Linked DNA regions of Homo sapiens. The protein of the gene in region 2 interacts with the protein of the main gene of each other region in a biochemical or structural test. Each region holds a gene or a part of one and is shown on either strand. Other genes may lie near its edges.

What was found. The genes of interacting proteins can lie anywhere in the genome.
Region 1: the proteins of RELN (region 2) and VLDLR form a complex in vitro, tested with the Homo sapiens proteins (6 studies listed by BioGRID).

Annotation. Positions count from the first base shown.
Region 1 is NC_000009.12:2,638,787-2,645,786, reverse strand, and holds part of VLDLR (very low-density lipoprotein receptor isoform a precursor), read right to left. Parts: intron 5,929-7,000; coding exon 5,806-5,928; intron 4,411-5,805; coding exon 4,288-4,410; intron 2,628-4,287; coding exon 2,256-2,627; intron 2,160-2,255; coding exon 2,037-2,159; intron 1,951-2,036; coding exon 1,828-1,950; intron 1,054-1,827; coding exon 934-1,053; intron 831-933; coding exon 705-830; intron 214-704; coding exon 42-213; intron 1-41. UniProt on the Homo sapiens protein: Multifunctional cell surface receptor that binds VLDL and transports it into cells by endocytosis and therefore plays an important role in energy metabolism.
Region 2 is NC_000007.14:103,986,626-103,994,072, reverse strand, and holds the start of RELN (reelin isoform a precursor), read left to right. Parts: upstream 1-4,414; 5' UTR 4,415-4,716; coding exon 4,717-4,942; intron 4,943-7,447. UniProt on the Homo sapiens protein: Extracellular matrix serine protease secreted by pioneer neurons that plays a role in layering of neurons in the cerebral cortex and cerebellum by coordinating cell positioning during neurodevelopment.

The sequences.
Region 1 (7,000 bases), on a different chromosome or scaffold from region 2:
ATGACTTATGTCAAGACACCACAAAAGGAACTGAAAGTTACCTGAAGATAGCCTTTTGGCTTAGATCGGCCCAGAATAGTTTCTGGGCAGCAATGTCAGCATCGAGAGCCACAGTGTTTCTTAGCTGTTCAACTAGTTGGATATATTCTTTCCTCTCTAAGCCAATCTTCCTGATGTCTCTTCGATTAGTGAAGATCAGACTTGGCTCTTTGCCTGCAAGATGGAAGTCTGGGTTACTTAGTTTTGCTTTAAGAAGGCAAGGTCTTTCTAAACCACCTCCTCCCAGCAGAGGAGCACTTAGAAAATAAAGGTATTGTGGAATACCTCAGTAGTATCTGTTCTGGAGTTCCTGCCCCTGGGACCTGCAAGTGCTTCCTACAGTTTAGGAAGGCAGTCGTGGGGTTACAGCCTTCAAGAACAGGGTGAGTGATGAATAAGTCACTTGTTTGAGTTGGACTCAAGTTTTGGAAACAGAGCATGCAAACCTGGTAGGTATTCATGGTATCATATGCAAAAGGAATGATCAAGGTACATATCTAGGGGAGAGATCTGCTATTTGACCTATACTGCTGTATTATGAGGTTAGCAGCATTGTTCTCAAGTACAATTTCATGTTTAGTTTGACTATTGTAGTCACTGGCTGTACCTTTTAGAGGCACTTACTCATAAAGGTACAACAGCCATACCAGTCCAAGTTCATTTACCTACTGCCTTGCACACGCCAGTAGCAAGATCCATTTGATAGCCACGACTACATTCACACTTGTAACCGCCTTTTAAGTTGATACAAATTTGACTGCAGATTCCTGGATTTTGGCATTCATCAATATCTGGGAGGGAAATCAGAATTAGTCTTGCTGCTCCTATACCTTACTAGGTACATACTATCCTTTCCCATCACCTGCAGGGTCCAGGTTTTCTTCTTAGACTCACCTCCACAGGTTTTCCTATCTATCAGTTCAAACCCAGCTGCACAGTCACACTCGTAGCCTATAACTAGGTCTTTGCAGATATGAGAACATCCACCATTATTTACCAAGCATTCGTTTATATCTGGAATAAAAATGTAGTAGTCACTTGACAACTTATTTTCAATTAATATCTTTCACATTTAAAACCCAGGCTATTTGTGATAACTTATCTAGTTGGCCTGGTCAAACCCACGATTTGTCTAAGACCTAATCATTTATTTTATAGGTATATATTTCAGGGTGGATTATCTAACTCCTCGGCAAGTTACCAGCTGGTCAAGCATTTAGTCAAGTTTCTCTATTGATGATCAGTTATCTTTAAGGAGGTTAAACTATAAACTAGTTTGGGCCGGGCGCGGTGGCTCATGCCTGTAATCCCAGCACTTTGGAAGGCCGAGGCGGGTGGATCACGAGGTCAGGAGTTCGAGACCAGCCTGGCCAACATGGTGAAACCCTGTCTCTACTAAAAATACAAAAAAAAAAAAAAAAATTAGCCGGGCGTGGTGGTGGGCGCCTATAGTCCCAGCTACTCAGGAGGCTGAGGCAGAAGAACTGCTTGAACCCGGGAGGCAGAGGTTGCAGTGAGCCGAGATTGCATCATTGCACTCCAGCCTGGGCAACAAGAGTGGAACTCCATCTCAAAAAAAAAAAAAAAAAAAAAACAACAAAAACAAAAACTATAAACTAGTTTGTCCTACCTGGGCTTTTAAGTCATAAAGTTTCACTCTGAAGTCTACAATTGAACTTCAGTACATTCAAAAGTTTAACTAGCCATCACGGGGGGTCCACACAGTGTTAGCTATACTGGATTGTGTCAAACTTCCAGGATCTGTACTTGAACAACAAGTACACTTACGACACTCTTTCAGGGGCTCATCACTCCAGTCCCTGCAGTCCTGCTCCTGGTTACATACTTTGCTGATATCTATGCATTCTCCACTTCTGCACTTGAATTTTCCAGGGCCCAAGCACTGATTGACTACAAAGAGAAACAAAGAAGAGAGATTCCATGAGTGGGTCTGGTCAGAGCAATCCATTGCTTAACCAACAAGAAGAAACCCTTACCATTTTTGCAGTTGACTTCATCGGAACCATCGACACAGTCTCGGATACCATTACACTGCCTGCTGCCATGGATGCAGCTGCCATCCTCACATTCAAATTGGTCAGGTCGGCAAGTTCGAGAGGCTACAAAGGGAGGAAACACCATGGAATGAAGCCAGCAAATTGTCCCAGTTGATACAGGGAAGAGAACTGAACATGCCATGCTAGAAAGCTACTTACGACAGTTGACCTCATCACTGCCATCCTTGCAGTCAGGGTCCCCATCACATCGCCACTTCTTATGGATGCACTCGCCAGAGCCGCACTGGATTTCGCTGGCTGGACACTTGGTGTGTATGACTGGCTGACGGCCACACTGCTCCAGGGACTCATCAGATTGGTCGGAGCAGTCTGCATCATCGTCGCATACCCAGCTGATGGGGATGCAGGAGGAGGTGCTGCACTGGAACTCATGGGCGCCACAGGTTGGCGGGGCACAGTCCAGCTCATCACTGCCATCGCTGCAGTCATCCTGGCCATTGCATACAAAGTTCCTGGAGATGCAGCGGCCACTGGAGCAGGTGAACTCGTCGGGACTACATGTTATATTGCCTATTAAGAGAGAGGATGCCCCACTGAAAATGCATCAAGATTGGTCCGTTCAAGATTCTTGTCCCAAAATCTAATACATTGATCTTTATTCATTAATCCTAACTTACTAGCCCAACTTAAAGGCTACAATGGAGTTAAATCAAGAACTTTTGTACAGTCTCATTGTACAAAAAATGAAGGCACACAATAAATAAGAAGAACAGAAATAAAGAACCAAGAAAATAGTTGAAGACTGGAAATTAATTTGAGATGAGAACCACAATTGATTCTAAAAGTGGCCATCATAAATAACAAACTGTAACAAGGGATTTCAATTTGGAAGGCAGAGATTGAGTTGTCCTTGAATCAACATACTGCTTGTCAGATCTTATCACTAGTTGAGAATATCATGCAACGTAATACTCACAACAAGCATTAAGACTTTGTCACCAAAAGAGGTGAACCACATACCACCATATATGGTTCCTCTTTTTGGTCCTTTAAATAAGGATCAGGAATAACAAGTCTTAAACACTTTCCATTTTGAAAAAGTCACTGCCAGGGCTATAATCACCATTTAACAATCAGGTATGCTGACAATGATAAGCTAGTCCTACTAGCCAATTGGTACTTTGACTTAAATTCCTGCCAAATGTTTCAAGGTCACAATTTGGTGGCAATTAGAATAGAGACCACGACTCTCTTGGGAAGCAAAGTCTAGATTTATAAGGGAAACACTTGGCAGCACCAGGGCTTACCAATACAGAAAACCCAATTCTAGGATTGAACACTAAAACTCATTGGACTAGGTGCAGTGGTATTGACCTCAGGAGGCGACTTCTACACACAAGACTGGTGTTTCAACTGTAAGTGCCCTGAGCTCCCTTGACTACTACCATATCAGGAGGCCCATGCTTGTCAGACTTGGGAGCTGTAGGTTTTAGAGGCCCTATAAAAAGGGCAGTAGCTTGAAAGAACATTCAAAGCACTGTTTGTTCAACCTAGTGATTTTCCCAGGCCCTCACCTTCAACATGCAGCATTTTATTAAAGATTTTCCAAGACCAGAAACATGAAAGAATAGGAAGCAGAGTTAGCTTTCAGAGACAGGAACTGCAACAGGAGACAAAGGTATCACCAGTTGGGTAGACTTTTCTTTGGGTATCTGAGGCAAGATGTTAATTCATGCTTCTGTGTCTTTTTTTTTTTTTTTTCTGGGAAAGTTATGCCAGAATCTAGTTCATGGGCAAAGAAATGCTTGTATAATACTCAAATAATTTATTCCAATAACCCAATCAAATTTAGACCTATGAATGTGTTTGCCAACCCTACTCACCTTCTAATTTTATTGTGCCAAAGTGCAAAAGACACATGAATTACTGTCAAAACAAAAGCCCACACAATTGCTGCTTCCCTGAGCTACTTCTATATATAAGTGCCTTGAATGACTTACCTTCTTATTTCTATTTGCCTAAAAGAAACACCAAGCGATGGTCAATTGCCACATGAATGTCTTTTAGGGTTTTAGGGCAGTTATGAAGGACAAGTAATTGAGCAGATAGTGAAGTCACTGAAAAGTGAGTCAATGTCAGTGCGTCTTCAGGCTTAGATTAGTTTCCCCTGCCCACCCTTCCTTTAGGAAAAGGGTCTTTGGGTTACGTCACTCAACACTGATCTTCTTACCACAGTTTTCTTCATCTTCTCCACTGTCACAATCATTTTCACCATCACATCTCCAGGACACTGGGATACACTGAGTAGAATGGGCGCCACAGCTGATTTCATGTATGCGGCATGTTCTCATATCTGTTGATGATATACAGTCTCAAAAGAGCCTCAGAACTGATCAATGCAAAGCTGCTGCTCCTGTGCTGCCTGGAAGCGCTAATACCTGTGACTCAGTAGCCTGGCACACTGGTGAAATTCTACTAACTGGCTGAAGCCCGGGGAGCTCTTTCATCAGCTCCACTCCTTAGAAGCTGTGCCAACCTATGCTACCTGGCAGTGTACGTGACAGCTTTGACCACGTCACTCCTTCAAGGTCCCATGGCGTGCTCAGTTCTGGCTTTTGTTTTACTTGGCGTGGTGAAGTTTATTGGCTGGCCTGCTCCTAGACCACTATTTATCTGTTGGATGTCAAGTGGGCACACCTAGATATTGTCATCTAATCTCAAATACATGAAAAGTCAGATGGTCAAACACCTACAAAATCTTCTATTGCCTAGATTCCTTTATGGGCCTCCTTCACAATGTCCTTTAGATTGACATCTTGCAAAGTAGAAGCATGCCCTAATGCTTGACTTGACCAGGTCATTCTCCACTAAAAGTTGAGGCTGAATCTTTACACAACCTGTCTTTAGCTCACAGGCCTTGAACTCACTTGCCTTGACCAATATTACTCCCCTCACTTCTTATCTAGAAAATTGAAAGTAACAGCCTTATCTTCCTTTCTATTTGATTTTCTTTCATAATCACACTTTAGACCTAAACTGTGTTCATGTTAGTCCTTTTTTAGTGTTTCTACCAGTGCAGGCCTCTACTGACTCAAACTCTAAGACTTTCTTTGCCTTGACATTCGTGTGATCTCAATTTATATGATCCCAAACCATCATTCTTTATGGTCTCATAGACTTTTTCCTAAGGACACAGGTATATACTTGCATACCTATGAAGTTTCTCTTATTTAAGAATATGCTGTAAGATCTCCATTTTAGTAACTTGAGGTTACATGTGTGTCAGGAGTCACTATATCACCCAATTACTAGCTACCTTACCTCTTCAGTAATAGCTTTTTAATAGTATGATAAGCTGTGCTTCTAAAAGCTTTTGCTTGGCCCATAGGGAACCCTCACTTCTTGACTTAGCTTCCAGGACCAGAGTACCATCTGCTCAGTTATTATAAACAGACATTTGAAATCTATGCACCTAGTCAAGGAGTTCTTGATTGAATCTGCTGACTTCAGTTTTAAGTATTCAATAGTGAAGCTACCCAAGAGAATGTCAGTCTTGTTGGACCAGGGAGAACATTCTTTAAAGGAGGCTGATAAACTGGTAATGATTTGACTGCCCTTGGAGTCAATTGACCTAAACTTTAAGGCAGGCAAAGAAAAATGAATACCAAGTAGGAGATTAAGCAATACTTAGAAATGTTAGACACCGAACAACTTGGCAAAGTTCAAGGCCAAAGCAAGTTACACTCACGGCACTGTTCTGGGCTTTCATCTGAACCATCTTCGCAGTCAGGATCTCCATCACACTTCCATCGGCTGGGAACACACTGGCCATTGTTGCACACGAAGTCAGATTCAGCACACGTCTTCTTTACTACAAACGTTTATTTGAAGGGTTAAAGTTGAAGTCATTTACCCACAGCCCTAGCTTCACATGAGGGCTCATACTGCATTTTGGCATGTTTTGCTCTAAAAAAAAGCTGAGTCAATGGGCACTCAACTGCCAATATCCAGGGGAAACTTCAGAAAAATTATTATTTTTTTTCAGAGGAGGAAGATGCTCATTTGAGAGACTTGGAGGAAACTGAAGTCAAGGTCAGACAGAGGTTGCCCATTATCTTACAACTCGGAGATACCTTACATTTAACTTCCTGCCTGTTTTATAATGTTGAGATTAAGTAACACTTTCATTTTCTACATGCATTTCTTCCAAGTCATTCAAGTACTTCATTTAACAGCTAAACATTCCATCTTCTGACTGGATCATAGTAGAACTGCTTGCTGGGGACTGAATGTTTGTCTCCACCCAGAATTCACGTGTGGAAATCCTAACCCCTAACATGATGTTATTAGGAGGTAGGGCCTCTGGGAGGTAATTAAGTCATGAGGGTGGAGCCCCCATGAATGGGATTAGCACCCTCATAAAAAGAAACCAGAGCGCTTACTCTCTCTCTCTTTGTTATCTACTATGTAAGGACACAGTGAGAAGATGGTCATCTGCAAACCAGAAAGACAGCCCTCACCTGATATCAGATCTACTGGCAGGTCTCTTCTCAGCCTCCACAACTATGAGAAATAAATTTCTGTTGTTTCAGCCACCCACTTATGGTATTTTTGTGACAGCAGTCTGAGCTGACTAATATACTGTTCAAGGGGCATCCCCTAACAACACATGTGTTTAGTGTGGAGAATGAAGGCCAAACCCCAGTACTGAATATTGTCACCCATACTGGTCTACAGGGGCAAAGAAACTCATCAGGTAGAAAGGGGAGAAAACTCAATCAGTGTAACAAGAGATGTTGTACTTAGAATTCAAGGGAGAGAAGATTTTAGCCTTTCTAGCCAAGGGGTAGGCTAACATCAACCAGCTAAAAGTCATTGAAGCTGTCAGTGCTAATATCCATAACTGCCTGCTAATGTTAAAATAGCCTAAGGAGAGGAATTGA
Region 2 (7,447 bases):
ATAATCTGTAAGTCTGCACTTACTGTCCAGTACAGACAGTGCAGCCTTACAGATTATCCCATTACTAGCCACCCTTAGCTATTGGATACTGGAAATGTGGTTAATGTGACTGAAGAACTTATTTTTAAATTTAATTTGATTTGAATTTAAATAGCTACCTGGGGACTAGGACACTATATCGGATAGTGCTGGTCTAGAGGACATAATTTAGGATGAGGGATCAGGAAAGATCTCTCAGATGCAAAAATGTGTGAGAGAAGACTTGGAGCATGAGTTGCTATAGCCAAGTAAGAAGTGAGGTGAGGGAGAGGAGGGTGGAAGATGTGTGGTTAGGCCACAGGAAACAGGAAGGGCATTCCAGAGAGAAGCAGGGGCAGGGAAAATCCCAGGAAGTGGAGAAACTTTAAAAAAAGGGATTTTTAGTGTTGAGGAATCAGATTCTGTTTCAGAAATCTTACAATATAATGACTTTGTGTTGTCCCATAGTTTATCTCATCATGGTATTTCAATCTGGGGTGGCAATAAGTAACATGTTCCGGCAGGACGTACGTAACAGAGCCAACTCCCTAATATCCCACCTTTCTCAGTGCAATTTCATTTGCAAAAGGCTTACTGATCTTTAGGGTCTATTTTTGTGTGTTTTTTTTTTTGATTTTTGTTTTTTGCTTAGGAGCCTCAATTTTATCATACAGTACCATGTCTTATGAGTAATAGATTTTATAAGTTTATTAGCTGCTATTGGGTTTGCTCTCATGTGGCCTTTTATTACCATTTTAGAGTCTAATAAGTCAACTGATTTCAGTTTGTTCACCCTCTTCATATTTATATTTACATATTTTTTGATTTTATAAACTTTGTTTGATTTTTACATGGTAAATAAGAATAGTGACTCACTTTCCCACATATACCAAAATGTTTAATGCTTCATCTCAAAAAATATCAATGGAAGGCAGATGAGTGAATTCTTGCAACCTTAAAATATAATTTAATGTCTTCTTTGTATTTCATATGGATGAATCACCTCCCAATAATTTAAAAGCTATGTATCTGATATATGTATATATATACATGTATATATAGAGAGATATAGCAGATATATATATATATATATATACACACACATAGCAAATATATATATATATATGAATTTAATTCCCATCGTGTTATGATTATTCAAATACTGGGCAATAATTTCCACTTATCAAGAAGAAGTGGATTTATCTTCTAAGAATACTTAGTTTAATTCTTTTGGTAGACTAATTACTATTTCAAAACTCTTTTAATTAAAAATAAATCTCATTCCATTTTAAACTCCCTTTCCCACAAGCCTATTCATTTTCACCTGACATCACCTTTTATTTTTTGCAGATGTTTTTGATGTAAACCATTTTTTCTGGAAAAGCACTTCTCTATTTTTCTATTAGTTCGGAAGGTTTTTGGATTTTGCAGACCCAATATTCTTGGAGATACTTATTATGGCTCACTAAATAGAAACGAGGTGTAAGGGTTAGCACACGAATTGGGAAACAGGAAGTTTTGCTATCTAACCTGGGTTTCCACCTTATTGCGTGATTTCAAGTAAGTTGCTCACTAAGAAGATGCTACTCTCGGTTCAATGGATTTTATATATGATTTATGTATTTTTCTGATTTTCTAAAGGTTATTTAAAAGTTTTTAATGACTAGTTGAACTGGCCTAATCAAAAAAAGTGTCAGAGATGAAACAAATATGAACTTGAGCCTCTACAAGGTATTCATGTTAGTTCTAAGGACTGCAGACTGGAGTGTACCAACTTTTACTCCCCTCTTGACCAGCTCAACACCACTCAGGACATTATTTAAAAACAGTCTTTGTGTCTGTTACTGAACAACTGCAGGGCTGTAGCCAGAAATATGAGCTTGCTTCATGGCTAACAGTATAAAAGTTATTCAAATGTAATAGCAAAGCAAAGTGGTAAAAATTAAGGAAGCACAATAAAGGGGAAGATTGAAAAATAAACTTGGTCACATAAATTGAATGTTAAGAAAGCCATGTCGAGAGATACGAGAAAGAATATTTCTCTGAGAGTGCACTACACAATGGAAAGAAGGGGACTTCCTGGGAATTGAGGACCTTATATGAATTAAATTCCAATCATGTCCTGGACCAAGTGTCAGCGCTTACTAAAGACAGTTTATTTAAGCAGCGACCTTGGCATCAAGCATGGCCAGACTTGATCCCAAGCTCCTTTAACTTCTATGAATCTCAACTTTCTTCTCTTTAAAAATGAAGATAATTATACCTACTTTGCAGGCTAATATAAGGATTAAATGAGGTATTCTGACACTGGATGAAGAATAATTATTCCCCCATCCCTCTAACAACACCAACATGCATTCTTTAGAGGCGATTTGCAGTGGTTAGTGTGTCAAAATCAGACTGCCTGGGTTCAAGTCACAGCACTCACTAGCTGTGTGACCTTGGACAAGTTACTTAACCTCCCTGTGCTGTTTCATCATAGTAAAATGAAGCTATCAATGGTACTTTTCCCACAGTATTGTTATGAGGAATAAGGGAGTTAGTATGTATAGTACTTAGGACGGTGCTCAGTGCATAGTAACTAAACATTTTAAAAGTGTAAGCCAAAAACATTAAATAGTTTTGGATTCTTTCTACAAGTGATTAATTTTGTCTTTGGCTATATTCACATGACTGGACAGGAAGGCAGTAACAGCCTTGTTAGCTGTGGGCGAGTATCTCCTAATTCTGTTTGGGGCAACACCACCTGCTCCAGCTAGGGCTGTCGACTGTGGCAGGGCAGTGCAGGACAAGAGCCTCTGAGGCCAGCCAGTCTGCCCTGCATCCAGCCTTTGTCACTGACTTTGGGCAAGTTATCAACATTTCTGAGTGCCTCCTCCCTTGTGAAATAGGGATATTTTTTGCCTCTCCAGTTGGTGTTAGGATTAAAAAGCTAAAGTACGTCTAGCCCCACAGCCTGCACCCCGCAGAGCTACAGTGTAGCAATTGTTACCACATCATATATATATATATGCACATACATATATGTATACACTGTATATTATTTATATGGCAGTTAAGCCTCTGGGGATTTTGAAGTAAGGGAAACAAGAAGCCAGCTAGAAATGGGCCCTTTCTACCTGTCATTCGGTCTCAGTAAGAGGAAGAAAAACAATTTCTTCCTTTTGCAACGAAGTGATTACAGAGGTCTCCCCTTGGACCCTGATTTTCACCGCCCCTCGCCCCACAAATGCAGGCAAAGGCACTATCCCTTCCAATTTTATAATCTACTCATTTCTGTACGTGCGGGTTTATCTGGCTTGGTGGCAAGCCAAGGGTGGGTGGGGAGAGGCATTAAAACCTGGCAACCCCGCTCCCCCATCTCCGGATGCCGCAGGGCTCCTGCCAGCCGTCCTCGGTTAAAAACGTGCTTATGGATTATTTCACTTCCCTGCAGTTCATGTGCAGCCGCTCATTACCACCCGCTTCAATCACCGCTGCCAGCATCTCCCCTGAACGTTTTTCCCTCCCCCGATTTCAGGGCCATTGGTCATAACCGACATTTAAAGGAAATAAACACTGATTTAAAAAATTACAACACCCATCTCTGCCTGAAGAGCCCAGAAGCAATGAATAACAGAACAGTCCGGCGAAGAGAGCCTGTCGGATCTTAGCTCCGCCAGCCCTTCCTGCCTTACAATTCCCCACAACCGAGCAGCACAAATCACCATTTCCAGGCACCACTCGAGTCTGCCAATTCCACTTTCGCTTAATCTCATTTTAAAATCCTCTACAGATGAGGCTCTGTCGCTGCCGCGAGGGGCCGGGCGGCCGCGGCGGGAGGGACAGGGGGCCTGGGTGGGAAGGGAGCGCGAGGGCCCCTAGCGGTTCGCGGCCTCGGGCGGATTCCCAGAACGAGTGCGGGCCGCCCGGACTGGCAGACTGCGAGCCCCGAGGGGCGCGGGACGCAGCCGGCTCAGACAAAGAAACCGGCGCCAGCGGCCGTCCCTGCCGCCCCTCTCCTTCCCTCACGCATCCTCCCAGGAAAAACAGGGCACACTGACGGCCAAAGGGGCTGGCCTTCCCCTTCAGACAGCTGGACGGGAGGTGCCCTCTGCGGGGCTTTGACGTCCCTCGCAGAAGAGTCGCGGGCTCAGCGGTCCTCGACAGCGTCCCCGTCCCGCTCCCCGGCGGGCGCCCCTCCCTGTCCTCCCGGGTGCGAACCGGGCGCTGGCCGGGGACTCCGGGGACGCGTGCGCCCCTCGCCGCGCGAGGTGCCGCCGAGCCAGCCCGAGAGGGCGGGGGGCGGGCGGGGCGGCGCGCGGGGGCGGGGGAGCGGCCGGGACACGTGTGGCGGCGGCGGGGGGGACGCGGCGCCCGGGGCTTTAAGAAGGTGTGGAGCGGGGCGGGCGCTTTCCCAGGCCTGGCCGAGGGGCGTCGCGCAGAGGCGGCGGCGGCGCACGGAGGCGGCAGACGACGCGCTCTCGGCGCCCGCAGCCCCGGTCCCGCGCTCCCGCGGCCCAAAGTAACTTTGGGAGCCGCCGTCTCCCGCGGAACTTCTCGGCGGGGGCCCGCTCCCAGGCCCGCTCCCGAGCCCGTTCCGCTCCCGTCCGCCTTCTTCTCGCCTTCTCTCCGCGTGGCTCCTCCGTCCCGGCGTCTCCAAAACTGAATGAGCGAGCGGCGCGTAGGGCGCGCGGCGGCGGCGGCGGCGGCGGCGGCATGGAGCGCAGTGGCTGGGCCCGGCAGACTTTCCTCCTAGCGCTGTTGCTGGGGGCGACGCTGAGGGCGCGCGCGGCGGCTGGCTATTACCCCCGCTTTTCGCCCTTCTTTTTCCTGTGCACCCACCACGGGGAGCTGGAAGGGGATGGGGAGCAGGGCGAGGTGCTCATTTCCCTGCATATTGCGGGCAACCCCACCTACTACGTTCCGGGACAAGAATACCATGGTAGGTACCGCAGCACCTCCGCGCTCGCCGCCGCCGGGTGCGCCCGCCAGCGCACCTTTCTCATCCCTTTCCTTCTTCCAAGGGGCCTTGGAAACAAGAACCATGACAACCCTGGCCCCAGCGATGCGCTTGGTCCAGGGAGCGAGAATAAAGTTAGTGGAGAATGGAGTCACAAGTTGGGATTCATTCTCCATGTCCCCACTCCCCGAACGCATCTCCTGGTAATGAGCTGGTGCTTGTGCTAAACGCCTGAGAATTCTTGGAGGCCGGTGTCTTTCCCCCTCACTCCCCGTACTTACCGCAGGCACTTTAAATTGAACCTGCGCATTTTGTTTCTTTACTCCTAGGACTTGGATTTCAGACCTTTGTCCTGCTCCCGGTCCCCCCAGATGGGTCCCCGGGGGGGCGTTGGGGGCTGTCGCTGGGCTTTGCGGGCAGGCTGGTGACAGATTGAAGCGCCCAGGTCTGTGGCTGCCCCGCGCCGCTCGACCGCAAAGTTCCCGCTGCTCACCAGCCAGGAGTCCCTGGCATTTCATTCAGTGTCATACAGCCCTCCTGAAAGGGAGCGGCTGCTTCCAGCTCCCTATTCTTTTGAAAGTGTGATTTAATATGTCAGTAATTGATGATTTTTCTGATTCCTGCCTTACTTTTACATGGTGCTTCTTGTTAGAATTATCTTTGTGATGTTTATTAATGACTTTGTATTTTATCTGCACAGCTTTAATTTCCAGGTAGAGGCTGGAATCCCTTATAATTTAGAGGTATCTTAAAAATGGAATCATTATGCAGCCCTGCATCAAAAATAAACATTACAGAAGAAATAAAATTTAGCTCCAAGAAATATAATATTATGTAGTACATGTATTTTAAGCTAGTACATCGAGTATGTGGAAAAATAAAAAATGTCTCTTTTCTGTATTTCTTCTGGGACTTCTGAACATTTCATGCCTATAGAGCTTTTAAGCAGCGACAGGCACTATTTAATTAGAATTTCAACCCCAAAATATTTATACCCAACCAAATAGAAACCATTGTCCAGTAGGCTCCTGTTAATAGTTTCTATCTCTAATAGGCTAACAATCATTGGCATGGCGGGAGATAATCTACGGGGTGCTAGCACTTAAGATAGACAAGCATTTAAAAATTGTAAGAATCCTTAAGATTTTTCTGTTTTTAAAAAAACCTTGATATCTATTATAAAATATTTAGCCTAAATAAACGTCTCCTAGAGGTTTTAAACAGTGCTTTTACAACTTCCTTGTGGCATGGTGGCAGCCTTGTCTGTAAAGCAGAAGTTTAATTTGGTGGAATTTTAGAAATAATTTTGGAAAATTAATGTTCTGTAACTAGTCCCTTTTTAGATAAAAGTGCTTACTACGCCCTCTTCCCAAGAACAATCTAGTGCTTTTCTGAGATAATGAGAATCTTTAAGTGGAAGGAGCAGCTACTGTGATGGCAACCAGACCTAACCCAAAGCCTGATTGACAGCCTGCTGCTCCGTGCGACTCTTAGCAAAAGTTCTTGCCCGGTATGATCTCTCAGTGAGAACGGTGGGTAAGTGAGTGAGGCTGGTCTCAAAGGCGTGACTGTCAGGTTATGATGGAAGACCATGTGATGATACAAAGCTTTATTATTATTTTTTCTGTTTTCCACATCCTTTGGAAGGTCTCGATATTGAAAACTTAACTAAAAACACCAAAATATCATACACCCTTTGGTTTTGCTCCCTTGCACCCTTGAATAGCAAATGCAAGTCACCTTAAGACTCACCATAATCACATATCTAAGTCTGAAAAGGAATGGATAACATAGAGTAGAAATAAAGTGTAAATACTTCAAGTTGGACATTGCGGAGGAGAATCTCAATTTCCACCTCTTTTCCACCACCAGAAAAGGTAGAGAAATTGTATTATGTAAGTTATGAAAGGTCAAATTATTATAAGCTTTGAGAATTGTGTCAGATTTTAAATTTCTGTTATCTATTTTATTAAACATTTAGATTTTGGAACTAGCTGTAGCTATAGGCCTTAAAGTAAGAGTTTTTTTTTTTTTTTTTGTAAAATGTTCTACAGGTAGAATACATGTTTAAAAATGAAGTGATGCTTATGTATGTCTCTTTTCCTTTTAGGCTTTTGAAAATTAATTTAAAAAATTCAGACACACACACACACACACACACACACACACACACACACACACAGCTTCTGTTAGAATTGAACTGCCAATAGGAAAACTTAATCTCATGTACTTTTGTGGTTGGCCCATTTTGATATGTGACCAAAATGAAAGGTCTTTTGCCCAAGAAGTCTTCTTAAACTTACAAGAAATGTGTAAAATGTTAGCTTGAGACTTTATTTCTAACCTTCTGGATCTTTAAAGTGTAACAGTTATATCAGAAAAAATCAGTCACATTTATGATTTACATTGAAGTCACCATTTGAATGAACCATGTTTAGGTGTAGAGCTGATAGTTGTGACTTTTTTTTTTTTTTTTTTTTTTTACCT